Linked DNA regions of Homo sapiens. The protein of the gene in region 4 purifies or fractionates together with the protein of the main gene of each other region. This does not show direct contact. Each region holds a gene or a part of one and is shown on either strand. Other genes may lie near its edges. The genes, in order: FBXO11, CUL5, SAV1 and SOCS6.

What was found.
Region 1: the proteins of SOCS6 (region 4) and FBXO11 purify together in Homo sapiens (affinity purification with mass spectrometry; 3 studies listed by BioGRID and IntAct, with this or other methods). This does not show direct contact.
Region 2: the proteins of SOCS6 (region 4) and CUL5 purify together in Homo sapiens (affinity purification with mass spectrometry; 7 studies listed by BioGRID and IntAct, with this or other methods). This does not show direct contact.
Region 3: the proteins of SOCS6 (region 4) and SAV1 purify together in Homo sapiens (affinity purification with mass spectrometry; 3 studies listed by BioGRID and IntAct, with this or other methods). This does not show direct contact.

Annotation. Positions count from the first base shown.
Region 1 is NC_000002.12:47,833,485-47,840,517, forward strand, and holds part of FBXO11 (F-box only protein 11), read right to left. Parts: intron 6,286-7,033; coding exon 6,158-6,285; intron 6,017-6,157; coding exon 5,935-6,016; intron 5,520-5,934; coding exon 5,375-5,519; intron 2,518-5,374; coding exon 2,388-2,517; intron 1,388-2,387; coding exon 1,304-1,387; intron 1,228-1,303; coding exon 1,095-1,227; intron 1-1,094. UniProt on the Homo sapiens protein: Substrate recognition component of a SCF (SKP1-CUL1-F-box protein) E3 ubiquitin-protein ligase complex which mediates the ubiquitination and subsequent proteasomal degradation of target proteins, such as DTL/CDT2, BCL6, SNAI1 and PRDM1/BLIMP1.
Region 2 is NC_000011.10:108,102,870-108,108,266, forward strand, and holds the end of CUL5 (cullin-5), read left to right. Parts: intron 1-1,320; coding exon 1,321-1,515; 3' UTR 1,516-3,337; coding exon of another isoform or gene 3,338-3,418; 3' UTR 3,419-4,892; downstream 4,893-5,397. UniProt on the Homo sapiens protein: Core component of multiple cullin-5-RING E3 ubiquitin-protein ligase complexes (ECS complexes, also named CRL5 complexes), which mediate the ubiquitination and subsequent proteasomal degradation of target proteins.
Region 3 is NC_000014.9:50,658,276-50,665,308, reverse strand, and holds part of SAV1 (protein salvador homolog 1), read left to right. Parts: coding exon 1-130; intron 131-7,033. UniProt on the Homo sapiens protein: Regulator of STK3/MST2 and STK4/MST1 in the Hippo signaling pathway which plays a pivotal role in organ size control and tumor suppression by restricting proliferation and promoting apoptosis.
Region 4 is NC_000018.10:70,320,023-70,327,055, reverse strand, and holds part of SOCS6 (suppressor of cytokine signaling 6), read right to left. Parts: intron 5,454-7,033; exon of another isoform or gene 3,408-5,453; intron 2,514-3,407; 5' UTR 2,388-2,513; coding exon 780-2,387; 3' UTR 1-779. UniProt on the Homo sapiens protein: SOCS family proteins form part of a classical negative feedback system that regulates cytokine signal transduction.

The DNA.
Region 1 (7,033 bases), on a different chromosome or scaffold from region 4:
TTCTCCCCATCTTCATGAGGAGATAGAGGAAGAAAGCAAAAGAGGCTGTAAATGCAAATTTCACTAGCAAATAATAATTACTAGCTATCTTAAAATGTTCTATGTACTGTATCCTCAAAATAAAAAAACCACAAATCTTCAAATGACTCAGTGTTTGACAGATATTACATTTATTCTTAGAAACCTGACCATAAATAGCTTTGAAATAGTACAAAAGTATTTAAAAATTCTATTTCAGTTCCTTTAAAAACATAGCAATAGAAATATTAGCATCTTTCTTTGCAATTCTCCTGCCTCAGCCTCCAGAGTCGCTGGGATTACAGGTGCACACCACCACACCTGGCTAATTTTTTTTGTATTTTTAGTAAAGATGGGGTTTCACCATGTTGGCCAGGCCAGTCTTTAACTCCTGACCTGAAGCGATCCACCCACCTCAGCCTCCCAAACTACTGGGTTTACAGGTGTGAGCCACCACACCTGGCTGCATCTTTATTTTCAAATAAAAGATGAAAAAGCTATTTTTCTTCGTTTAATGAATAACTCAAGGCAAATGGAGAAAGTACTAACATTAGGAAACATATACAGCCAGGCACAGTGGCTCATGTCTGTAATCCCCGCACTTTGGAAGGCCGAGATGGGCAAATCACTTGAGGCCAGGAGTTTGAGACCAGCCTGGCCAACATGGCGAAACCCTATCTCTGCTAAAAATACAAAAATTAGCCACGCATGGTGGTGCATGCCTATAATCCCAGCTACTTGAGAGGTTGAGGCATGAGAATTGCTTGAACCCAGGAGGCAGAGGTTACAGTGAACTGAAATTGTGCCACTGCACTCTAGCCTGAGTGACATAGCTAGACTCTGCATCAAAAAAACAAAAAAGGTTGGGGGGGGCGGGGAGAAAGAATTTATATACAGCTATAATTTCTGAACTCTTATGTTTTCACTTCCTTCACTTAAAATATGTGTGATATCTTCATTCCTACTTTACCAGCAGGATATTATAAAACTGGATTTTAAGTCACTAGCATTTTTAAAATCCTATCACATAAATGAGTAAAATATTAAAATTTTAATGACAATGCATTTCAAAATACCTGCACCAATCATGGTGATTGGAGATTCAATATATATCCATTCATCAGTATATATTCCAGAATGAACAAAGATAAGTCCATCAAAATGAGCCTCTTGTACCCCACCAAGGGCATCTTCAATAGTATCATAATACTAGAAAAAAATAAATGTGTCAGTACAGAACTGAAAGATTACCATTTTAAGTCATAAAAATAAAAATCAAACATACCAACATATTTTCTCTTCCTTTATATCTTGCAGGGTTACTGTAGAAATGTTCAGCAAATCCTGGCTTTACATGTGCACCTTTATACTAAAATGTCAAAAACAAAACAAAACCATTGACTACTAACATAAACCTTATATTTAAATTAATGTACAATTGCATGAACAACTTTTATTACAAATCAAAAATAATTCTCAACTATTCCAAATAATTTTCTGTCAGAGTACAATGTAAAATCTAAAACAAGTTATGATCCGGTAATATCCAGAAACAAAGAACAGGGTTTCTCAATCTCAGCATTACTGATATTTTAAGTCAGTTAATTCTTTGTTATGGGGGCTGTCCTGTGCACTGTAGGATGTTTAGAGGTATCCCTGGCCTCACCCAGCCAAATAGCAGCAGCACACTCTCCTCCCATTGTGACAATCAAAAAATGTCTCCCGACATCGCCAAATGTCCCACAGAAAGCAAAATCATCTCCAGCTGAGACTCACTCACGAAGGGCCGTATAACAATTAAGCTAAATGTGGAACTTTAAAACAAATGCTGAACACTAATAATTTAAATACAAGTTCAAACAGACCCATTGAAATCACAACTGCTCTTAGGCTACTAATGCTTACTGTACTAACTTATTAATGGGGGGATATGTCAGTAGTGAAAAGAATTGCTGAATATTCTGTTGGTTGATAAATGTTCATTAAAACCTACTCAACTTTTTTTTTTTCCCTGAGACAAGAGTCTCACTCTGTCGCCCAGGCTGGAGTGCAGCAGTGCAATGTCAGCTCTCTGCAACTCTGCCTCCTGGGTTCAAGTGATTCTCCTGCCTTAGCCTCCGAAGTAGCTGGGACTACAGGTGTGCGCCACCATGTCCGGCTAATTTTTGTATTTTTAGAAGAGATGGAGTTTCGCCATGTTGGCCAAGCTGGTCTCGAACTCCTGACCTCAGGTAATCCTCCTACCTCGGCCTCCCAAGGTGCTGGGATTACAGGTGTGAGCCACCACGCCCAGCCTAAACTTATTTCTTAAAAGAAAGTTATTTACAAATGTATAATATAAACCAATATATTCTATTTATATTTCATACCAACTGCTGGAAACTCTCTTTCCAGGGATTTGGATGTTCATACTCTTCTGGATTAATCTGGTAGAATTTTCCAGGTTCAGGATGCATCATAGGGCGAGTATATTCAAATACTTCCATATATAATCGTTTCCTGAACAGAGAAAGGAATTAAAATTTTCTTGATAAAATGTCCTTTAGATTAATACAGTTTTGAACAACTATAACAATTATTTGAGGCCTCAAAAACTTGAGTAAGAAAGTAAGAATAGACAAAAATGAATATTAAATCACAGGATTTTTTTTTTGAGACACAGTCTCACTGTCATCCAGGCTAGAATGCAAGTGGCATGATCTTGGCTCACTGCAACCTCCCTCTCCCAGGTTCAAGCCTCAGCCTCCTGAGTAGCTGAGATTATGGGCATGTGTCACCACGCACAGCTAAAAACAGGATTTAAAACGTGAAAACGTATTTTTCACATTTAAAATTTTCAGTGTAGTTGCATATGGAAATTATGTTTTTTTCCTTTTTTTTCTTTGAGACATAGTCTATTTCTATCACCCAGGCTGGAGTGCAGTGCCACGATCTCAGTTCACTGCAACCTCTGCCTCCTGGGCTCAAATGATCCTCCCACCTCAGCCTCCCAAGTAGCTGGAACTACAGGCACATGTTACCCAGGCTGGTCTCGAACTCTGGAGCTCAAGTGATTTACCCACCTCAGCCTCCCTAAGTGCTGGGATTACAGGCGTGAGCCACCATGCCTGGCCGAAAATTAGTTTTCCTGCAAAAATTTTCACAATGTAACTGCGTATGAAAATTTGTCCACACAGAACAACAAAAAGTTTCAATTTCCTTACAAACTGTTTACTCAGGAAGGGGAAAAAAAGTTATCCTTACTGTAAAAACATCATGATTATCACTTAAAAAGATAATTTTCTTTCTTTTTCTTTTTGAGACAGAGTCTCACTCCCGTTGCCCACACTGGAGTGCAGAGGCGTGATCATGGCTCATTGCAGCCTTAACCTCCCAGGTTCAAGTGATCCTCTTGTCTTATTTTTTGATTTTTTTTTGTAGAAATGAGGTCCCAGTATGTTGCCCAGGCTGGTCTCAAACTCCTGGGCTCAAGTAATCTGCCCACTTCAGCCTCCCAAAGTGCTGGGATTATAGGCGTGAGCCACTTCGCCTAGCCTAAAAAGATAATTTTCAGTAAAAATACTTTGAACTTAATTTGTCCTATATCTTCAGTCCATTTATATCCTATCAAGCACAATGAAATCTTCAAACTGGAGTAATGGCTAACTATTATCATTTCTGGTACAGTGAGCAATGCTGTTTTGTTCTGCTGCTCTTCATTCTCATTTCTCCTTTGTAATTTTTCTCTTAAATGTAAGGTGTGGGCCGGGCACAGTGGCCCATGCCTGTAATCCCAGCACTTTGGGAGGCCCAGGCAGGAGGATCACCTGAGGTCAGGAGTTCAAGACCAGCCTAGCCAACATGGTGAAACCCTGTCTCTACTAAAAATACAAAAAATAGCTGGGCATGGTGGGAGGTGCCTGTAATCCCAGCTACTCAGGAGGCTGAGGCAGGAGAATTGCTTGAACCCGGGAGGCAGAGGTTGCAGTGAGTCAAGATTGTGCCACTGCACTCTAGCCTGGGCAACAAGAACGAAACTCCGTCAAAAACAACAACAAAAACATATATATATATGGTGCACCTTTTGTGCATCATAAAAGTAATACATATAACCGTTGTAAAACAAAGAAGTGTAAAGAACTATAGTTTCAATATATTAACTATTAACAGTCTGCCATATTTGCTTCCACTCATTTTATCTACAGATCATTTATTATAGTTGTGATTATATAGCATATACAATTTTGTACTCTGTTCTTTTCTTTAAAAAACAGGGTCTCCGTCTGCCGCCCAGGCTGCAGTGCAGTGGCACGATCACGGCTTTCTGCAGCCTTGACTTCCTGGGCTCAAATGATCCTCCTGCCTCAGCCTCCGGAGTAGCTGGGACCACAGGCAGGAGCCACCACACCTGGCCTCTTTTCACTTTTTATAACAGCATTTTTTTCATCTTATTAAAAACCTGGGCTGGGTGCAATGGCTCATGCCTATAATCCCAGCACTTTGGGCGGCCGAGGTAGAAGGATCACTTGACCCCAGGAGTTCAAGATCAGACTGAGTAACAGAGTGAGACCCTTTGTCTCAAAAAAAAAAAAAAAAAAAAAATTAGCTGGGCATGGTGACACATGCCTGTGGTGCCAGCTACTCAGGAGGCTGAGGTGGGAGAATGGCTTGAGCCCAGAGGGTTGAGGCTGCAGTGAGCTAGGAGCGTGACACTGCACTCCAGCCTGGGTGACAGAGCAAGACCCTGTCTCTCAAAAAACAAATGAAAATCTCTTTGTAAAAATTACTATTAGTGGTTATATCACAACTCTCCAAGTACACATTACACAGTTTATGTAGTTCATTCCCTTAATTCTGGATATTTAGATTATTTATAATTTTTCTCATTATTAACTAGGCTGTTACGAAAAATCTGTACATAAAGCAAAAAAAACTTTTCAGAAGTAGAATTACTGGGTCAAAGGGCATGACCCAGTAATTACTGGGTCAAAGGGCATGAATTATTTAAAGATTCATGAATACAACTGTTTTCCAAAAGTGATATATAAAACCTACATTCTAATCTATCAGATTTAAAATTCATTAGCTATTTTAAATTACACTGTTATGTTTCTAAAAAGCTACTAAAAGAAAAACATTTCCCATAATCAATCAGTTGCTATTAACTGATAAACAGCAGATAAAAGACTTCATTTACTGATTTATAAATACCACCTGGACTGACAGCCCCCATTTGTAACTTGGAATTGATAAGCATTTTAATTTTGTTCCAACTAATTGTAACTACCAACTCACCGCACCGACTTTCCTACCATGTTTAGCATTTTGGGCAACAAATAACATATCTCAAGTTAATAAGGAATAGGTTTTTACTTACCACAAAATTGGATCATTAGCAAGTTCACTGAAGCGTTTACATACACAAGCTGCTCTACAAAGATCCTGTTCCAGCAAGTAAGAGAAGATTTTTAGAACCACTTCATCTGGCAGTTTCTCCTGAAGATACTGTTCAGCAGGTGCTGCTATAAAGAGATTAACATATAAACTATCATTCGAGCAATAACTTTCTCATTATTTAAAGAACACAGTTTTCATTTTATCTAATGAATAGCTTTTTTTTTTTGGATAATGGTCATTTTATAAGCATGTGGGTTTCATGGGTAACACATATTTATCTCTATCCTGAACTAACAAAAGTACTCCTTCTTTTAGGTATTATGTGCCATCTCAGAAATGGTTAAAATAAATACATAAAAAGCATTTTTATACAACAATAAAAGTCAGAGGGAGAGGTCAGGGTTCTAAAGTTTATTCTGTAATAATCACTTTCTGAATCCCAAAGGTAATACTCGAATACACTTAATTTTCATTTTTTGGTATCAAGCAAAATTAAAAAAAATTATTTTACCCTATTTGTTACTTTCCCACAGGAAATACCTGATAGATCTTGTGATTTTCCAGACACTCTTGCACGTTTTGCACGATGACCAAAGTTTTCTGTAGTTGAAGTTGAGGCGCCCTTCAAAAACAAAACAGAAACTAGTAAAGCAAATATTCTTATCATCCATAATCATTACTTCTAAAAAAGGATGACATTCCCTTTTTTGTTTCTTGAAAATTCTTTCATTACAAAAAGAAAAGCAACTACAGTTAAAGTTACCTCCATACTGTTCTTTGTGGGACACGCTGTTCTTTTCGGCAAAAGAGTTTTTCTACGAAGTTGGTATGGACTATTTTGTGCACCAGGACCTGATTCTTCTGCAACCATATCTGCAGGCACATCATCATCTGTTATAAACAAAAGCAATAAGAAAAATTATACCCTTTTTAAAAAAAGTTCTATGGATACAGAAAACTTTCTTAAAACTTCAAATTCGGGAGGGAGCAGATGTAAGTTTTATATGAAATTCCAACCAACTGGATAGCTATATGAAAGAAATGTTAGATTTCTATAAAATGTGGAAGATTTTTTTTTTTTTTGAGACAGAGTCTCGCTCTGTCGCCCAGGCTGGAGTGCAGTGGCGCAATCTCGGCTCACTGCAAGCTCCGCCTCCTGGGTTCACGCCTTTCTCCTGCCTCAGCCTCCCGAGTAGCTGGGACTACAGGCGCCCGCCACCACGCCCAGCTAATTTTTTGTATTTTTAGTAAAGATGGGGTTTCATCGTGGTAGCCAGGATGGTCTTGATCTCCTGACCTCGTGATCCACTCACCTCGGCCTCCCAAAGTGCTGGGATTACAGGCGTGAGCCACCACGCCCAGCCGTGGAAGACTTTTTTTTAAAAAAAGGTGAGGAGGATATCCACTTGCTGAGAGGAGTGGGAAGGGAACTGGTACTACATGGTTAGAGACCATATATGGTGAAGGCAGCTTGGCAAGGAGTGTGTCTATGAAGAGGAACGGCTCAATATAGTGCATGAGATACCAGGTAGGTTAAAAAGGGTGTCAGAGGGTAGTCTGGTGTATGAACATCTTTTTTTTTTTTTTTTGGAGATAGGGTCTCATTCTGTCACCCAGGCTGGAGTGCAGTGGCCCGATC
Region 2 (5,397 bases), on a different chromosome or scaffold from region 4:
ACTGCAACCTCCACCTCCCAGGCTCAAGCAATCCTCTTTCTTCAGCCTCCTGAATAGCGGGGACCACAGACACACGCCACCATGCCTGGCTAATTTTTGTATTTTTTATAGAGATGGGGTTTCGCCATGTTGCCCAGGCTGTTCTCAAACTCCTGGACTCAAGCAATCCACCCACATCACCCTCCCAAAGTGCTAAGATTACACACATGAGCCACCACACCCGGCATATACATGCCTTTTGTTGGGTAAAGAGAGAGCTGGTACTGGAAAAGGTAAAAGAGAAAAGAATATTTAATGATTTTCTGATAACTCTTATTGTAAACTTAACAGTAATTAAGGAAATCATCAAGAAAAATTTTGATAAAATGACCTAGATGAAAAAGATTTATTTCTTTAGAAACTTAAAAGTGACTGGGCATCGTGGCTTACACCTGTAATCCTAGCACTTTGGGAGACCAGGGCAGGGGAGTATTTGAGTCTGGGGGTTCAAGACCAACCTGGACAACATAGCAAAACCTTGTGTCTGTATTTAAAGAGAAGAAGGGGAAAAAAAAAACCTTAAAAACATTTAATTGAGTCAATATAAACTGAAGATAATATTTGTAGCAAATATAATTAATTAATCTGGTAAATATATAAAGAGTACTACTTAATGACTTTTAAAACAGACCCCACCTGACCTGTACTGCTATACAAAGAAATAACTGAATACAAGGGAAAAATTTGGTGTAAGGGGTTTGTTATATTTTAATTAATGTTTAACATGATACCAGGTTATATACACATTGTTTTCACAGGTAAGATAACTTTTAAGAATGTGAATGGCATGGGAAAAAAGGAATTGAAGGAAATAATATTAAAACATTAGGTGTAGTTTTCTTTCAGCAGAGAAGCAGAGGTAATTTTGCTTTTCCTTATTTTTCAAAATCTCTATAGTCAGATTTTTTTTAAATACATACTTTAAGTTCTGGGATACATATGCAGAATGTGCAGGTTTGTTACATGGGTATACACGTGTCATGGTCATTTGCTGCACCCATCAACCCGTCATCTACATGAGGTGTTTCTCCTAATGCTTATCCCTCCCCTATCCCCCCACCCCAATAAGCAGATTCTCTTTTATGGGGCATGAGAAAACAAAAGATGTTTTTATTTGTTAAGTAAAAGATACTAGTCTCAACATTAATCCCCTAGTGATTATTATTCATTTGGGTAGATGTTGGATAGAGGATGAATATGCATAAAAAGTCATTTTTCAGTTTGTTGTACTTAAAATAATTTCGTATATTAATGCGCTTTTATTTTTATTTTTTCTTTTAGGAAGCTATCATACAAATAATGAAAATGAGAAAGAAAATTAGTAATGCTCAGCTGCAGACTGAATTAGTAGAAATTTTGAAAAACATGTTCTTGCCACAAAAGAAAATGATAAAAGAGCAAATAGAGTGGCTAATAGAGCACAAATACATCAGAAGAGATGAATCTGATATCAACACTTTCATATATATGGCATAATTTTGAATATCATGGACAATATTTAGAACCCAAATTTTGGAGTGCTTGGGCAGAAAGTTGTAAAGTTTGTGCTGGAGAAAGGTTTATTTGGACTTTGATTACATAAATATTAAAATCTCTGCCTTACCTTACAAAAACAACTATATTTTGCCAATCACATTAGTTAGCATGATGGCATTCCCTTCATGTTGCACACTCTTTGACAGCATGCTGTTTTGTGGAGAAACTTGCATTCATGAAGAGCCCATTATCAACTTTTAAAAGTGAATTTGATTTGTACCCACCAGGAGAAATACAGTTGGGAAGGGTGAGGGTGGGGTTCTTGTTGCTTTTTTCTCTTTTTTCCTCTCTTAAAAAATGTACTTGCACAAGGAAGGATCTTCAGATATTCATGCACTGAAAAATGCTGTTATCTTTTGTTTTTAAAAAATGCAATTAAAACTAGAAATAGCACTCTTGGTTTCTTTTGATGAAAAGAGTGAGCTGGTCAATGCAACATTGGGAAACGGCAGATGTAGGTGAGAAGTTAAGTATTTAATAGTATCAAATTGTTCAAACATTGCTCAGTATAATAACTGGATTTTAATGGTGACCTAAAAATGGTATTAAATATTTTCAACTTTCAAATGTTGGTTTTCTTTAAGCAGGAGACTGCTATTTTAGTTGTTGTTAAATGATGAGGAGTTTTTTTTTTTTTAAATATGGCTGGAAAGCTTGTTTTGAAAAATGAAGCTTATATTAATTGTTGCTTCAATAGTTTAAAAAATTTATGGAGATAGGTAGGTCATTATGATTGCAGAGCCAAAATAGCAAAACAAACATATTAAGTGTGTTTACTAAACATATTGTGTGTTTACTAACACACTTAATGTTTATATACCTAATATTTATTATGCCATATCTGAATTTATTAAAAACAACACAGAAATCTCCTGCTCTGATATAGTTATGTAACTGATCTCTTAATCTGTAGCATAGAAGTATTTTGGTATTTTAAGGTCTCATGATTAGGGATTTGTAGCCTCAGGTTTGAATCAGTCACCTAGGGGTAAGAGAAAAACCACAACATAAGACCTGAAAAACAGAAGCAAAATTGTTGCACTCTTAATACGAGCAGTAAACTTGCCAAATATATGTACATATATATTTATATATTTTAAAAATAAACATTTTTTAAATCGTCAGAAGGCAACATTTACCATGTTCCTTTCAGTCTATCCAAAGTAGCAACTTAACTAGTTGCTGGCAACTGAATACCCAGAGTAGTGGAAATTTTAGGACTTGAGGACGTGAACAACTTGAAAGAGAAAATTGATTCCCCTTGAGGAAAGAATGGCTCAACGTGGATTTTTATTCATTGTGGTGCACGTTTCAAATTTTCTTGCAAATTATTTTATATCTTATTTGATGTTAAGTAATATTTTTAAAGTATGGTTTTTGAAGATAGTAGGAAATGGAGTACAGAAAGGCATACAGTATTATGTTACAGTGGAGTGCTTTCAAGAGCATTTCGTAGGATCTGTCCCCATCCGAAGAGGCTTTGTGAACTGCCTGCTGAATGGAAGGAAAGCAACTTTAAAACATTTAGAGTTTTGCTGAGTATAGCCAAATGCCTGTTCTGAAACTTATAGGAAATTGGAATTTTGTTTAAAATTTTACACTTTAAGGTAGCAAATGTCAATTATTAGACCGAGCATATTGTGAAGAATTAAACTAAAATTAATACGTACAGTTTTCTCTAATTAGGTGACTGTTCATAATGGGTATATTTGGAATTTAGAAGAAATAATTTTGTAGTAATTGTGGCCCTTATGTTTAACAGATAATTCAGCATTGGCGTATTTGCTTGTCCCAATACAAGAATGCCAAAGGAGGAAACAGGAAAAATTGCCGTCCATTTTAAAAATTTAGGTTTGTTGTTTTAAACCATAATTGTTCTCAGAACTTTTTTGGAACTTCTAATTTTGGGTCATTTAATTTAAGAATGAGAGTCATGATGTTTTGATTTATGAAGGTGAATTTAATGCAAAAGTGGGTAACACTACATTCATAGCAAAGTTTTTTATTAAATTTTATAAATTTTTAATAGCCAATTATGTCCTAATTGTATTTTGGGGAATGAACAGCAGCAAATACTGTAAATGTACAGTTTTCTTTTTTTTTTTTTTTTGGTTATGTATACAAAAGTTTTAACTACTTTTTGGTGTTTATGAAAATCATTTAGTTGACAAGGTGCCTATGCCATTGTTAAATTTTCTTTAAGTAATTTAACAACAGATTTGCTAATTTAAAAAAAAATGAAAAAAAAAATCTTACCAGCAGTTTGTAAAGGTCTGGAATCACAGTTGGCATCCTTTATTCAGGTCTCTTCTCTCCAGCGTACACTTAAAATTGGTGCCGAGCAGGGATATAACCTGCAGTTAAGTGAAAAGAAAATCCAGCCTCCCCCTCCAAAAAAAAAAAAAAAATTTAATTTTTAAAAATTAGTGGTATGGCAATAAGACACTTCAGAGGCTATCTTAACCTCTGAATACCCATCTTCTAGTTTAAAGACAGAGACATCCCATCTGGAAAATGTTAACTTGTGTTGCCATCTCGTTGCCGGAGTAAGTAGACATAAGACAGAGTTTAAGAAGTAAAAATATAGAAAAATTTTGATGGTCACAATGAGATAAATATTAGAATATTACTATTCCAATGATTAAATGAGGATCTTGAAATAAATTCTGAAGTCTTCCAATTTTTACATTTATTGGAGGGGTCCCTGAGTTCTGTCAACTTTTTTATTTAAGTCTCTTGCTCTTATTTTGTGCATAAATGTTAAACCTTCCAAAAATGAAATGTTAGCTTTCTTTCTTTTACTTTTTATTAAATTTAATAGAAAATATGACCTGAGTAGTTAAAAAGTATTTTGCATTATTTGCAGTAAGATGTCTCTAGCACTGCTCAAAGGGCAAATTTTAAAACTTCAGTCTGGGTGAAAGATTTGCTAGTTTTACAGAAAGATTTGCTATCTTAAACTCAAGCTGGTTTTTCTGTTCTCATGTAAGTGACTGGGATGCTGTCTTATGAATTCTTCCAAGGTCATGTTTGTGAAATAAACATTACATGAGAGCTTTCCTGTCATCTACACTATATGTTGTCTGGAGTGTTGAACAAATTTATTTTAGTTTCTAAGTTGTAATCTATCCTCATATGGTCTATACGATTTTGAATGTGTGCCACTACATACTGAGATGATAATGCTGTACAATTTTAAGTGGTAGCAGTTTCTGTATGCAGTAGGCTGAAATATTTTGATGAACTGCTTAATTTTTGGATTTTATTTTTTAAGTTGTATAATTTATTTTCTTGCAAAATAAAAATGTAATATAAAAGCTTTTACCTATCCAGAAAATGTTGATGTTCTACTATAAAATAGTTACAAAGAGTTTAATTAAAATTTTTATAGTAGGTATATTTTTAAATTTGAAGGTAAATTAATCTCAGCCAGCCTTAGGAATCAGAAATATGAAAAGTAACCCACTTATTTATATTAGACTTCAAATTCTAATTCAAAATGAGAGCAGTCAGGAATGTAGCTTTTCCACTGATGATAGCATGTGGCTATATGCCTGGAAGAGGTAATAAAAAAAAAAAAATTCCAACCTGAAAGTGGTTAATATATTCATCAACTAAGATAGGCTATGTCATAACAAAATTCAAATTTTATAGCAGATAAAAGTAAAAAATGGGCCGGGCTCAGTGGCTCACGCCTGTAATCCCAGCACTTTGGGAGGCCAAGGTGGGTGGATCACCTGAGGACAGGAGTTCAAGACCAGCCTGGCAAACATGGTGAAACCCTGTCTCTACTAAAAATATAAAAATTAGCCGGGTGTAGTA
Region 3 (7,033 bases), on a different chromosome or scaffold from region 4:
TCAGACAATTTTTTTGATGGTCAGAGAAAGCGGCCACTTGGAGATCGTGCACATGAAGACTACAGATATTATGAATACAACCATGATCTCTTCCAAAGAATGCCACAGAATCAGGGGAGGCATGCTTCAGGTAGCTTAACATTATAAATAATATAGTAGTTTATATTTATTGACATGTCAATTAAAAAGATGTTCTTTTCTAGATTTTCTTGGGACACGAACAAATACTACTAGCGAAATGTTTTTCCACTTTGCTCATCCTGCTTAAGCCTGTGTGCAAATAGTTGTTAATCTACACTGAATGGAAGAGTCCTTGTGACCATTTATTTTATTAACTCATGTTATGTAAACTTGGTATTTATCTCAAGGCTGTCTAGACTCTTAATGCTGTGACCCTTGAAAACCTAGAGAATTTAATGTCTCCAGTTGGGCTGAATTTAGGTTTAGGTTTGGTAGAATAATGGGAAGGGTAAGTCTTCAGAGACACTTGACGGAGTCCTCAGAGACACTTGACAAACTTGGGAAAGGAAAGAAGAGTAGGAACAACTGGGCATGCTCAGTGATACCCTGAGCAACCACATTACTTCGCTAGATCCTGCCCTTTTTCTCAACAAAAAGTAGTTCAAGAATTATTTCCTGAGTTGATCAAAAAGACTTATTGTCATATGGTTAATTATGTGTTGAGCATGTCTTTTTATTATTTTTGTAACAGACAAAAAAAATTACCATATAATTTAAGAAAAGAAGGTACTTTCCATATCTCCTGAGTTGGAGATACTTCTGAAAGGAGCAGAAGAGATGGGAGAAATGTACAATTCTACTTTATTCCTGAAGTCCTGGTTTTACCAGATAAAATGAAGTGAGATGAAAATTAAACTTTCTTGTCTGATTTTTTTTTTCTACCAAGTTATAGACTTTAAATTTTGGCAGGATAAAAATAAAATGTGAGACAGATTTACTTTTTGGCTCACATAACTTCAAATAAGGCGACTTAAAAATGGTTTGGAGCATTAGTATTTTGACTGTAGAAAAAATTTATTCATTTAATATTAACTGTTTATGTGTCTAGCGTTTTCCTTGGGTCTGTTGGTCTCTGCTTTCTGGTACCTTATTTGTCTAGTACCTTATTTGTGGAAACAAAACCAATCTATACACAATGGTCACAGAAAAATTGTTATACTTTGTGATACTAACTGTAAGTGCAACAGGGAATCAGAAGAGAGATGAGTATAGGCTGGAATACTTAAAGAGATGATTCATGGAAGAGGTAGGACTTGGAGTGGGCCTTGAGCTTGGCCTTTAGATTAACAAGGGCCAGAAGAAGGACATTTTACGTGGAAAATTGGGAATAGCACAATGAAAACAGAGTAGGCATGGTTTAAATATAAGGAACAGTGTAGTTCTGCCTGGTTTGAAGAAATAAGATGTAAGGTTGAGTGGAGATTTGTGGTTCAACAATAGGCTTAGATTTGAGTCAAGTGGAAGCTCTTGCACATTTCGGAAAGACAAGTGATTTTATGAAAGCAGTGTTTAAAGATTAGTTTTGTACTAGAATTAAGGGTAGATTCCTAGAGAAAAGAGGATTGCAGGTACCAGTGGGTACCAGTGGTAATAGGAAAACGCAAATCTAGGATGCTTTTAAAGGAAAAATGAGAATTAGAGTTTAGGAGAAAGCAGATCACTGAAGTTTTAAAAATAATGTGGAATAGTTGGTAAGAACAACTTATTTTATGAAAGCTGACATCAGAGTCTCACTGGAACATTGTAGAGGAGAGGTTTTCTAGGCATGTGGAAATGCAGTAAGAGGCATGGGTAAAAGCACCTTTTAGTTTTTAAGGAATTAGGTTAAAGAATTAGCTGCATGCTTGAGTGTTTATTTTGGTTATTTCTGATATGCAGTTCTGAACCTCAGGAATAATTTGTTATCTAACTAAAATAGTAAGTTTTAAAAATAAAGCTCATTTATATTTTCTTCTAGAATAATAACTGCTTATTACAGGAAATTTGCAAAATGCAGAAACGTAAAGGCAAAGTACCTGTCCACCAGAGATCCTCTTAGTATGTTATTTTCTTCATCTTTTTCCATGCCAAATTCTTTTTTTACATGGATGTGATTATATAATATTTTGTACAGTTTTCTGTTCTTTTTACTTGAATGATTTTCTTCATGTTGTATACTTTTTATGAGTGGTTTTAATGACTGCGTAATCTTCCATTTGGTGCATATTCAGTGGTTAATGAGGACTTGACCTATACTTCAGAAATTTGGAAAGAGGAGAAGTGGGACACGCCCACATTAATGGGACTTGGCCACTAACGGGGTTTGAAGGACAAAGGAGAGGGAAGAGTCAGATAGGATTAGCACAGCACATGACTGCCTAAGAGATGCTCACAAAAATAAATGGCTGAATGAGTGAATGAACCCAGCGGTTTTAAATCTGGAGGCTTAAGACAGTTTTTGGTAGCTGAGGGAGAACAGAAATAGCTATGTTTACTGTTAATATAGAATATGTGTTATTCTTTGCGTTCACCTTTCCCACCTATATTGTAGACGTCACTGATAGCTTGTAATACTTTTCTACCTGAGGTTTAAGTATGTAAATATGAGGAATTAATAACAAGTTAAACTCTTGTTTTGAAAATCTAATTTGCCAAATATAATTGAGGAAATACTATAAGAACTAAATCTCTACTGATCCTCTCTTAGGAGCAATTTGAGATAATTTTTCTAAGTTTAAAGACAGACTTTAAAGCAACTTTCCAGTCACAACTTCAAAATAAAGTACAAGTTAATTGCATACGTTTTCAGATTCAAGTATGTCATTAAAAAAATAAGATTTCAGGCTGGGCACGGTGGCTCACGCCTGTAATCCCAGCACTTTGGGAGGCCAAGGAGGGTGGATCACGAGGTCAGGAGATTGAGGCCATCCTGGCTAACACGGTGAAACCCTGTCTCTACTAAAAATAAAAAAATTAGCCGGGCGTGGTGGCAGGCGCCTGTAGTCCCAGCTACTTGGGAGGCTGAGGCAGGAGAATGGTGTGAACCCGGGAGGCGGAGCTTGCAGTGAGCTGAGATTGCGCCACTGCACTCCAGCCTGGGCAACAGAGTGAGACTCCGTCTCAAAATAAATAAATAAATAAATAAATAACAAGATTTCAAAACACTGATGAAAGAAATTGAAGAGCACAAAAACAAATGGAAAGACATCCCATGCTCATGGGTCAGAAGAATTAACATCATTAAAATGACCATGTTGCTCAAAGTAATCTACAGATTGAATGCAATCCCTATTAAAATACCAGTCATTTTTCACAGAAATAAAACAATCCTAAAATTTCCACAGAACCAACAAGGAGCCCAAATACCCAAAGTAATCCTGAGCAAACCGAACAAAGCTAGAAGCATCACACTACCTGTCTTCGAAATAAGGCTATAGTAACCACATACAAGGTTATAGTAACCACAAATAAGGCTATAGTAACCACAATAATATGGTATTGGTATAGAAAGACACATAGACCAATGGAACAAAAATAGGTAATGCAGAAATAAATCCACATATTTACAGCCAACTGATTTTTTTACAAAAGCACCAAGAACGTGCATTGGGAAAAGGACACTTTCTTCAATAAACGATGCTGGGAAAATTGGATATCCACATGCAGAAGAATGAAATCTGACCCTTGTCTCACCATATGCAAATTCAACTTGAGATGGATTAAAGACTTAAGACCTGAAATTATAAAAGTACTAGAAGAAAATGTAGGGGAAACACTTCAGGACATCGATCTAACAAAGATTTTATGGCTAAGACCTCAAAAGCACAGGCAACAAAAACAAATAGACATATGGGACTATATTAAACCAAAAGGCGTCTGCACAGTAAAGGAAACAACAGAATGAAGAGACAACATATTGAATAGGAGAAAGTGTTTGCAAAAGATTCATCCAGCAAGGGACTAATATCCAGAATATGCAAGGAAGCCAACAGTAAGAAAAACAACCCCATTAAAAAGTGGGCAAAGGACATGAATAGACGTTTCTCAAAAGAAGACATACAAATGGCCAAAAGGTATGTGAAAAAATGTGCAACATCACTAATCGTCAAGGAAATGTAAGTGAAAACCACAGTGAGGTGTCTTACCCCAGTCAGAATGGCTATTGTTAAAAAGACAAAAAAATATACTACTGGTGAGAGTGTGAAGAAAAGGCAACTGTTACAGACTGTTGGTGGGAATGTTACAATAATTAGGACAGGCACTATGAAAAACAGTTTGGAAATTTCTCAGAAAACCGAAAACAGAACTACCATATGATCCGGCAGTTCCACTGCTGGGTATCTATCTAAAGGAAAAGAAATCAGTATATCAAAGAAATACCTGCACTCCCATGTTTATCATGTCATTTGCAGCAGCTTGAATGGAACTGGAGGTCATTATATTAAGGGAAATCAGGCACAGAAAGAGAAGTGTCTCATGTTCTTACTCACATGTGGGAGCGAAACACATTGATTTCATGGAGATAGAATGATAGCAGAGGTTGGGAAGGATGGGAGGGGAGGTAAAGAGAGGTAGGTTAATGGGTCCAAACATAAAGTTAGATGGAATAAGTTCTAAGGTTTGATAGCAGAGTAGGGTAACTACAGTTAACATTTTGAAATAGCTAAAAGAGAGGACTTGAAATGTTCCCAACACATAGAAATGATAAATACTCACGGTGATGGATACCCTAAATACCCTGACTTGATTATTTCATACTCTTTGCATGTATCACAATATCACATGTACCCCATAAACATGTGCAAATAATTATGTATCCAAAAAATGCTATAAAACAATGTTACCACCTGACTGGGCTCTTGTCTGCTATCCGAATAGAGCAGAACACTGAGACAGCAGATACTGTAAAGAAGAAAGAGTTTAATTATTGCAAGGCAGCTGAGTAAGGAGGATGGGAAATGTTTCTCAGAGTCATCACCGCCAAGACTGGAGAAGCTAAGATATTTAAAGATGATTTGGCAGGCAGGGGGCTAGGGGATGGGTGCTGGTGATTGGACTGGTATGAGATCATAGGGTTATCAATGCTGTCTTCATGTGCTGAATCAGTTGCTGGGAAATTGGGGAGTCACAAGACCAAGTCAGTTCCTTGGTTGAGTTCATGGAACACTGGTCCATTTGGTGTCAGTTGGTCCACTTGTAAGCAAAGTCTGAAAAATATCTCGAAGACCAGTCTTAGGTTTTACAGTAGTGTTTGTGACTGCCAGTTACTATGGAAAGAAAGCTGGGAAAAAATGGCAGGTTACTGTTTAAACCTATAGCTTAGCAGAAGAGTTTGCAGGAGGTGAGATCACCAGTGATCAAAGTGGCCTGGCCTGTTTGGCCAGTCCAAATTCTGGAAACTATCAAGGGGGTCTGTGTGATCTAGGATCATTGTTTTCTTGTTCTTCTCTTCTATTTTCTTTTTTGAGACAGGATCTTGCTCTGTTGCCCGGGCTGTAGTGCAGTAGCATGATCACAGCTCACTGCAGCCTCGACCTCGGGCTCAAGCAATCCTCCCACCTCAGCCTCCTGAGTAGCTGGGACTACAGGCATGCACCACCACACCTGGCTAATTTTTTGTATTTTTAGTAGAGACTGAATTTCAGTGTTGCCCAGGCTGGTCAAACTCCCAAGCTCAAGCAATCTGCCTGCCTTGGCCTCCCAAAGTGCTGGGATTACAGGCATGTGCCGCAGCACCCAGTCTGGATTATTGTTCTTTAAAAGAAACAGGTTTGTTAATCTTATGGGCAGCCTGCCCAGGGGCTGCCACAGGAAGACAATTATTAGTGACTGCCATTTGTTGAAATGACTTTGCAAGCAGTCATACATGGAGGTGGAAAAAGAGAAGGAAAATATTTTATCAAAATTCGGGCCCCTACCGTAATTTTAATCTTGAGGGTGTTTTTAATTTTATGAGGGAGGCTTCAGCAGGAGTCAGCAAGCTACACCCATAGGCCAGATAGACTTGCCTCCTGCAATACAGTAGTTTTATTGGAACACACATGCACTGAAATAAGATTTGATTTCATGGAATAGCCAAGACCTTGTTTTAATGAGACAGTAGACTTCTGCCTTCGAAGTCTCATCCCAGGCTCTTTTATATCAGATTGCGTTAGGTTTAAAGAAGGTTGCAGGTAGTTGAAGAATCTCAGGTAATAAGGTATCTCTCCCAACCAAAAAAAAAAAAAAAAAAAAATTCTTTACAGCAGTTGATACACTGCTTGAGAGCTTGAGAGACTTCATTTGATAAGATTAATTTTTATCAGGGCAATATAGATTTAATGTTTTACCTTGTAGAAAAAAGTAGTACTTTTTTTGAAGGAATCTCTAAAGTTGCAGGGAAAGATTAATAACCAATTACATGCCAAACAGAAAAGCCTAATAACTGCCTCTTCCACAAGGGAAAAATCTGAATATGAGACAGTAGCTGAAAGTTTCTTGAATTCACCTTGAGAAGACTTAAAACATATTTTTAGGATTTATGCTGAATAAGGTTCAAGGAATTTGAATGAATAGAAAGGAGAAAGTAAGTTTGTAGGAGGATAGGATAGGTTTGTGCGATAGATCTATTTTCAGAAACATTGAATTTTGATTGTCATAAGCATAAAAAGGTTGGAAAATTTGTTTTGTAATGACTTAATGGCAATAGTAATTCCTGTCAATTAGTTATTAGATTTTCAGGAAACACCTTGTGTCAAGGGTTAAATTCAGCTTATTGTATTTAGTAGAAGCACAAAAACAAGTTGTATAATCTCAGAAAGTTTTAGAGCCTAGAAAGTTCTACGTTTAGCTGTAGAACTTTCAGATTAGAAAATTTGACCTTTAATGTTCTTGGCCGCATACCAGTCACGCACTTACTGTATGTTCCAAAGAAAGGAATCCTGCTGTTAACAGGAAGTCTTTAGTTGGAATACTAAAGGCAGACTGAATTCCTTTGTTTTGCGCTTAAATTTTAGTTCTGTCTCGAAAACATTTTTAAACGTTTAAAGATGAC
Region 4 (7,033 bases):
TTGTACCCGAGTTTAATTACAGAAAAGGCAACAATTTCTAAATTGGTGGTATACATTTCTTTACAATTTTTTAATGTAAGGCCATTTATTAAAATAGACAAACTAGAAGATGAAAACGAAGGCAACAGAAAAATTCAACTTTTCACAACCAAAAGAATTAGCACAACCTTAGAAATAATTTAGAAAAAAGTGTTGTTAAAAGATATGTTGCAGATCTCCGTTCCATTACCCAAGATTATGTCAATTCACGATTCTAAATAAATCTTTTTAAAGTAAGAGATTAAAAACTCATCTTCAGTGTATATGTAAATTCTGTGTTTTATCACACAGGTATGTTTATTCAACACTGTCTTTTGAAAATGGACCATTTAAAAAGACATAGCAATTTCCATTCTGTTAAGTTTCATTCAACTTTACTTAGGGTTGAATACACATGAAATGTGCTTTTAATGCATAAAAATCACAGTGGATAGCAGCAAAGGACTGGGCGGGGGGGGCATTGAGGAGAATTTGATAATTCACATTGTGATTATTCTGCACATTGATGAAACATAATTCACACCTCTAAAACCTCAAGACTTCCCTTTTTTAAAGAACCAAAATAAACCCAAGACACCTTGCTGACACTTCCCCACCCCTAAACAAACTGATGACTCTTTTACACATAAAACTGAAATAGTTATGGCAGCAAAAGATTTTGATGGCAATGAAAGTTTGTAAACTGTATTTCAATCTCTTGTTCTTATTCCCAAAGTGCAAGATGCAGGGTTCTCAATCTTTCAGTAGTGCTTCTCCTGTAAATAATCCTTCATTTTGTTTGGCAAAGGCAGTTTCTGAATTAAGTCTATTCTGGTATACTGACGTATAACAAAACGACACAGGTACTGCAACGAGCGCACCTGCATGAACCGGGACACTGGGTTGGTCAGTCTGACGGGGTAAGTTGCAGATCCAGGCAGCCGAGACCTTGAATAACAAAAAGCTCCATTTTCAGAGTCCCTGATTGAATGCTCAATTAGATCAACTATGGACGTATGTCCTTCCACATCTGGCTGTTCATAAAAGCTAAACCTACCATTTGAGTGCTCAATTCTAGTGTGAAGTGTTTTACCATGGGAGCGAAAGCTCAAGCTTAAAAGGTAACGGTCGTCAGAACTGTCCCGAACAAGAAAAGAACCATCTGGCACGTTTGCTAGCTTCCCTTCTGCCTCCCAACGTGTGATTGGTCCCCAGTACCATCCTTGCTTTGCAAGTTTTTTCAGCTCCTCTGTAAGGCTTGTCACAACCATGGGACCACTACTTTGCACTGAGTCATAAACTCTTGCAACCCCAGGAGCAGAGTTCGGATCAAAATTCAAATGACAGCGCATACTTTCAGCCACGTGGGCTTCTGTGCCAGTGAGTCCACTGAAGTTCCTTTGGATTTGATTATTCTGCATTGGAGGTAGCAATGGTGAGAGTGGAGGGACATCATCGTGACCCGCTCTCGGGCTCTGCAACATGACTCCCGTGGTGCCAATCAACAAGCCATTCACGGACTGATCCACGAAGATCTCTGGGGCGACAACTAGGTCCTGGTCTACCTGACTCTCATCCTCGGGGAAAGCGCGCCCTCCCACTTGAGGAGGAACCGCAGAGACTTCCATGGGAGAAGAGCTGTCCAGACAATAGCTCCGTGATCCTTCCAAAGGATACATCCCCTCATCTAAAGGCACAGTATACTGAATGTAGTCCTGAGGCATAAGTCCAATAACGACAGGCACATGTTCATCCAGGTGAAGATGCAGGTCTCCATTATGAGAAGCCGAGCTCTTCAGTGAATTGGCTTGCTCCTGGCACGTGGTCTCAGACTGGAGGTCGTGGAAATCCTTCCGGACGCCATTCAGGGCTGGACTCGGGCTGGAAGAGTGAACCAAGGCCTTGACTCTCACCTCCATCTTGATGCAGGTCTCCTCGGAGTTTGTGGGCCGCAGAGGCCACGGCGCGGGACTGTAGTGATGGCTGCGGAGCGACGTGGACCTTATCGGCCTCTGAGCTCTCACGTCTTTAAAGACTATGGGTGCTGAGGAGGAGGAGAAGGTGTCCTCGTCGGCAGAGCTCCCAGAGGGTGTGCCCGCCTTGCCTTTTGACTTCTGTTTTGCAGAAAGCCGCCTTTTTAGCGTACCCATCAGGCTCTCGCTTTTTGATCTGTTTTTTCCGCCTTTTTCATCTTCACCGTTGATATCGCAGCTGGCCATATCTTTACCATAGCAGCTACCAAATAAGGAATCATCTTTTCCAAAGTCACTGGCTAGCGATGGTTGTTGTACTACCATGAAATCAGTTTCTTCTTTACTTTTATTCAAGTTAAAAGATTTCCGTAAGGTTTTAAGACTAATTTTCTTCATTATGACTAGTTACCTAATCCAAGGGATCAATATTTCTATCTGGAATATTATCCCCAAACATCTGGAGAGGCTGCAAGGCTGCATCTATGTATTTTTCCTGCTTCATTTAACCTTTGGAGCCATTTTCTAAAAAATAAAAATATAAAAAGAGTCATATTAAAAAATATTTCCACAAAAGTTTTGTTTTAGTCAGTTTTAATCCTTTAACTTCTGAACGAGAACACCCCAGTCTTTTCTTAATGTCAGCTCTGTTAGGACCGGGCTTTCTTTCTATTGCACCCAGCAGAGCAGATCACTGCCTACTACACAATGAGCATTTGGCAAGTATTTGATGATGTTTACTTTATTATTATTATTATTATTATTTTGAGATGAGTCTCACTCTTTCGCCCAGGCTGGAGTGCAGTGGCGTGATCTCGGCTCACTGCAAGCTCTGCCTCCTGGGTTCACGCCATTCTCCTGCCTCAGCCTCCCAAGTAGCTGGGACTACAGACGCCCACCACCACACTCAGCTAAGTTTTTTGTATTTTAATAGAGACGGGGTTTCATCGTGTTAGCCAGGATGGTCTCGATCTCTTGACCTTATGATCCGCCCGCCTCGGCCTCCCAAAGTGCTGGGATTACAGGCTGAGCTACCATGCCCCGCCCGATGATGTTTATAAAGAACAAGCCTGCATCTACCTTTTGTTCTTTTGGCACCTTGCTTTTTGGTATAAACTCTAACGTGTGGGCCAGTGTCCACATCCTTCCCAGCTGGACTCTAGCTAGACCTGTGCACTCCTTCAGCACTGACTCCGACTGCTCCTCCGCTGCCTGCCATGTCCCAGCCTGTGTCCTGGCACGACAGTAAAGGCGTTCCATAGAACTGCAATAACAAGCCTAGTCAACTCAACAACTGATGCATATTTTAAATACTTAAGCTTGTGTCAAAATAAACAAAAAGAATTTCATTATCTGTAATAAACTATCTAGAGATGTTCCTCTATACTCGAGAATTCCTTGAGAACAAGAATCATTTACCTTCAAGTTCCCAATGCACAGAGGAGGAAGAAGCTCAATGCGCGCAGGTTGAAAAGCTTCATCTCTGAAGTACACCCATAAAAACCCATGTGTCTAGTTTTGATCTATTTGGAAGATTATGAAACATATTTCCAGAATTATTATTGCTTACTCTTCTTTTTTTGCAATTTCCCATGGCAAATTTTTACTTCTATATCCAGAAATATATTTTCTAAACTTTTTTTGTACATTGTTCTACACTGAAATGACAGGATTTCAATTCTGTAAAGACTTTCTGAAAGTCATTTCACAGCAAAAAATCTTGGTTCCATAAACCACGTTAAGTGATCCTAACACTACTTTACAAAGGCCCTGTGTTTAAACTGTGTAGAATGTTTTCTTTCCTCCAACGTCATGTTCTGCCTTCTCTGCATATGACTTGACAAGGTGATTCGCTTGACTTGAGCGAAATGCTAATAAAGCCCAGAACAAGATTCTGACCTCCCAAATCAGCAGTTTAGCGCCACTCAGTTTCTTGGCACAAGACTATGGCTCTAGCTTTGATCCCATTCATGAATTCACTCTGCCTTTACTAAGCCCCTACTCGGCCTCTGCTGAGTCAGCTTGGCTCAGCCCTGTGTGGCAATACACAGATTGATGAATAACTGATGGTCACCTAATCCAGTAGGAGAGACAGATGTATGAACAGATAAACTGTAGTATCAACCCTTCAGTAATATAATGGTACACAAGGTGGGAACTGACAGGAGAGAGAGAACCTGACAATTGTCCCCTTTTAGTTACAGATAGGATTCGGGTGGTGTGCAGATGGAATCATTCTTACTAAAAACCACTCAGATTAGACAACCTATCAGGGGATCAGTACTATCATGTCCCCAAAAGGAAGAAGCAATTTTTAAAAGTCTACTGTCATGTACTATGTTTCTGAATAAGTTGTAAAAAATAAAAAACTTAAAATATTTGAAGCACCAGTTACTTTTAAATAATAAATGAAGTTGTATATTAGGTGAACTCAGTGTCTTAGTAGCATGTCTTCTACCCAAGCATAATGAACTATTATAACTGCCAGAATCAGTAACTGATTAACCCTACTAAATGTGAGATTCAAATAGTTGTGCTTCCCACTATCACACCCATACCCCAAAACACGAGAGACTAGCAACCACGGTAAAAGTACTTGGCAATTACCTGCTTGAAAATTATTCCTTTTTCAACTACCAATCCATATTAGTAAGCTATTAATCAATACTAATATTAAAGAAACAAAATTCAATCCTAGACATTACAAACTATAAAAGTTCTATTAGGCCATATGGTCTTTTATCTCTTCCCTTCATATTCTAGGCAAAGATTACTCTAAAATTTTTAAGAGTATCTGTTTTTCTGTTTGCACATCCAAAAATATATGCCATCTTTTTATAGGATTACCATCTGTCTCGTGCCTAAGTAAATGTTCTGAATTAGTTTTACTGCTTTTCTAATTGTAAAATTTTAAGTTTATACATATACTTGAAAATGTATATAAAGTTTCAAGGGAAAAAGCTTTAGACATAAACTTTATCCATATGGGTAAAGGATAACTTCTTCAAATAATTTCAACCTTTTCTTAAATGACTTGAGGTAGTCATGTCTGTCAGTCATCATAACACATAATGAAAAAATTAAAAAGATCAAACAACTACTTAACCTTCAATAAACAAAACAGCTTTATTATCCCCATTTTATAAAATGAGGAAACTGGTTATCAGAGAGACTGGAATTTGCCCAACAAAGTTAAACAATTTGCTACTAGCAACAGCAGATCCAGAATCTGAACCTGGCTGTTTATTTGCAAAGCTCACATTCTTCCCCTATGCCAACCTGTCCTACCTGTCATTCTACTGCTTACATCAGTGGTTCTCAAACATTCTGGTCTCAGAACCCCTTTATTCTCTTAAAAATTATTGGAAGACAGGAAGAAGCATTGTTTATGTGGGTTGCATCTCTTGAAATGTACCCTACTAGAAAATAAAACCGAGAGGCGGGGCATGATGGCTCACTTCTGTAATCCCAGCACTTTGGGAGGCCGAGGCGGATCACCTGAGGTCAGGAGTTGGAGACCAGCCTGGCCAACGTGGTGAAACCCCATCTCTACTAAAAATACAAAAAAAAAAAAAAAAAAATAGCCAGGCATGGTGGCGTGTGCCTGTAATCCCAGCTACTCAGGAGGCTGAGGCAGAAGAATTGCTTGAGACTGGGAGGCAGAGGTTGCAGTGAGCCAAGATTGCGCCACTGCACTCCAGCCTGGGCAACAAGAGCGAAAACTCTGTCAAAAAAAAAAAAAAAAAAAAAAAAAACTGAGAAAATTTGTTATTTATTTATTTATTGAAGACACAGAATCAGAGTCTCGCTGTGTTGGCCAGGCTAGAGTGCAGTGGTATGATCTCGGCTCACTGCAGCCTCAACCTCCTGGGTTCAAGAGATCCTCCCACCTCAGCCTCCTGAGCAGTTGGTACTATAGGCACGCACCACCACGCCTGGCTAATTTTGTCTACTTTTTGTAGAGATGAGGTCTATGTTGCCCGGGCTGGTCTTGAACTCCTGGCCTCAAGCAATCCTCCTACCTCAGCTTCCCAAAGTGCTGGGATTACAGGTATGAGCCACTATGCCCAGCCTAATTTTATATTTATTTTAAAATGACAATATACTCATTACATGTTAACATAAATAACATTTTCATGAATGATAATAAAAATCAGTGAAAGTGGTACCACATGACATTACTGTAAATCTCTTCTGCCTGACTAAAGGAAGACAGCTAGACTCTCATATCTACTTCTGCACTGAATCTGTTACAGTACAGTAGCCCTCTCTTATCTGCAAGGGATACATCCCAGGATCCCCTGTGGATTCCTGAAACCACATATAGTACAGAACCCTATATCAAGTATACTTTGCTTTTTTCCTATACACACATACCTATGATAAAGTTTAATTTTTAAGTTAGGTACAGTAAGAGATTAATAACTATAACTAATAATAAAATTAAACAATTATAGCAAAATATTGTAATAAAAGCTATGAGAATGTGGACTCTCTCTCTCGCAAAATATCTTACTGTACTGCACTTAGCTGTCTTCAGATGACTATCGACTGTGGTAATTGAAACTGTGCATAGGGGACTACCTGTAAGAAGAAAATTCAGCCTCCTCCAGATACATAGTTGGAAAAAGGAACAATATATTTTATTTAATAACCTTTTCATATAACTATGGATATTTTTCTTTGATACTATATCAAAACTCAATGAATAATAGTTTCTTAATGATAAATTGCCCTGTAAAATCTAAAACCATAACACAAAATTTTTTTACTCTATAACATTCAAACCCATTGGTCATGCCTATAATCCCAGCACTCTGGGAAGCTGAGGTGGGTGGAACACTTGAGGCCAGGAGTTCGAGACCAGCCTGGCCAACATGGTGAAACCCCGTCTCTACTAAAAATATCAACATTAGCCAGGCATTATGGCTCACACCTATAATCCCAGCTACTCTGGAGGCTGAAGGAGAATCACTTGAGCCCAGGAAGCAGAGACTGCAGTGAGCTGAGATCACACCACTGCACTCCAGCCTGGGCAACAAGCA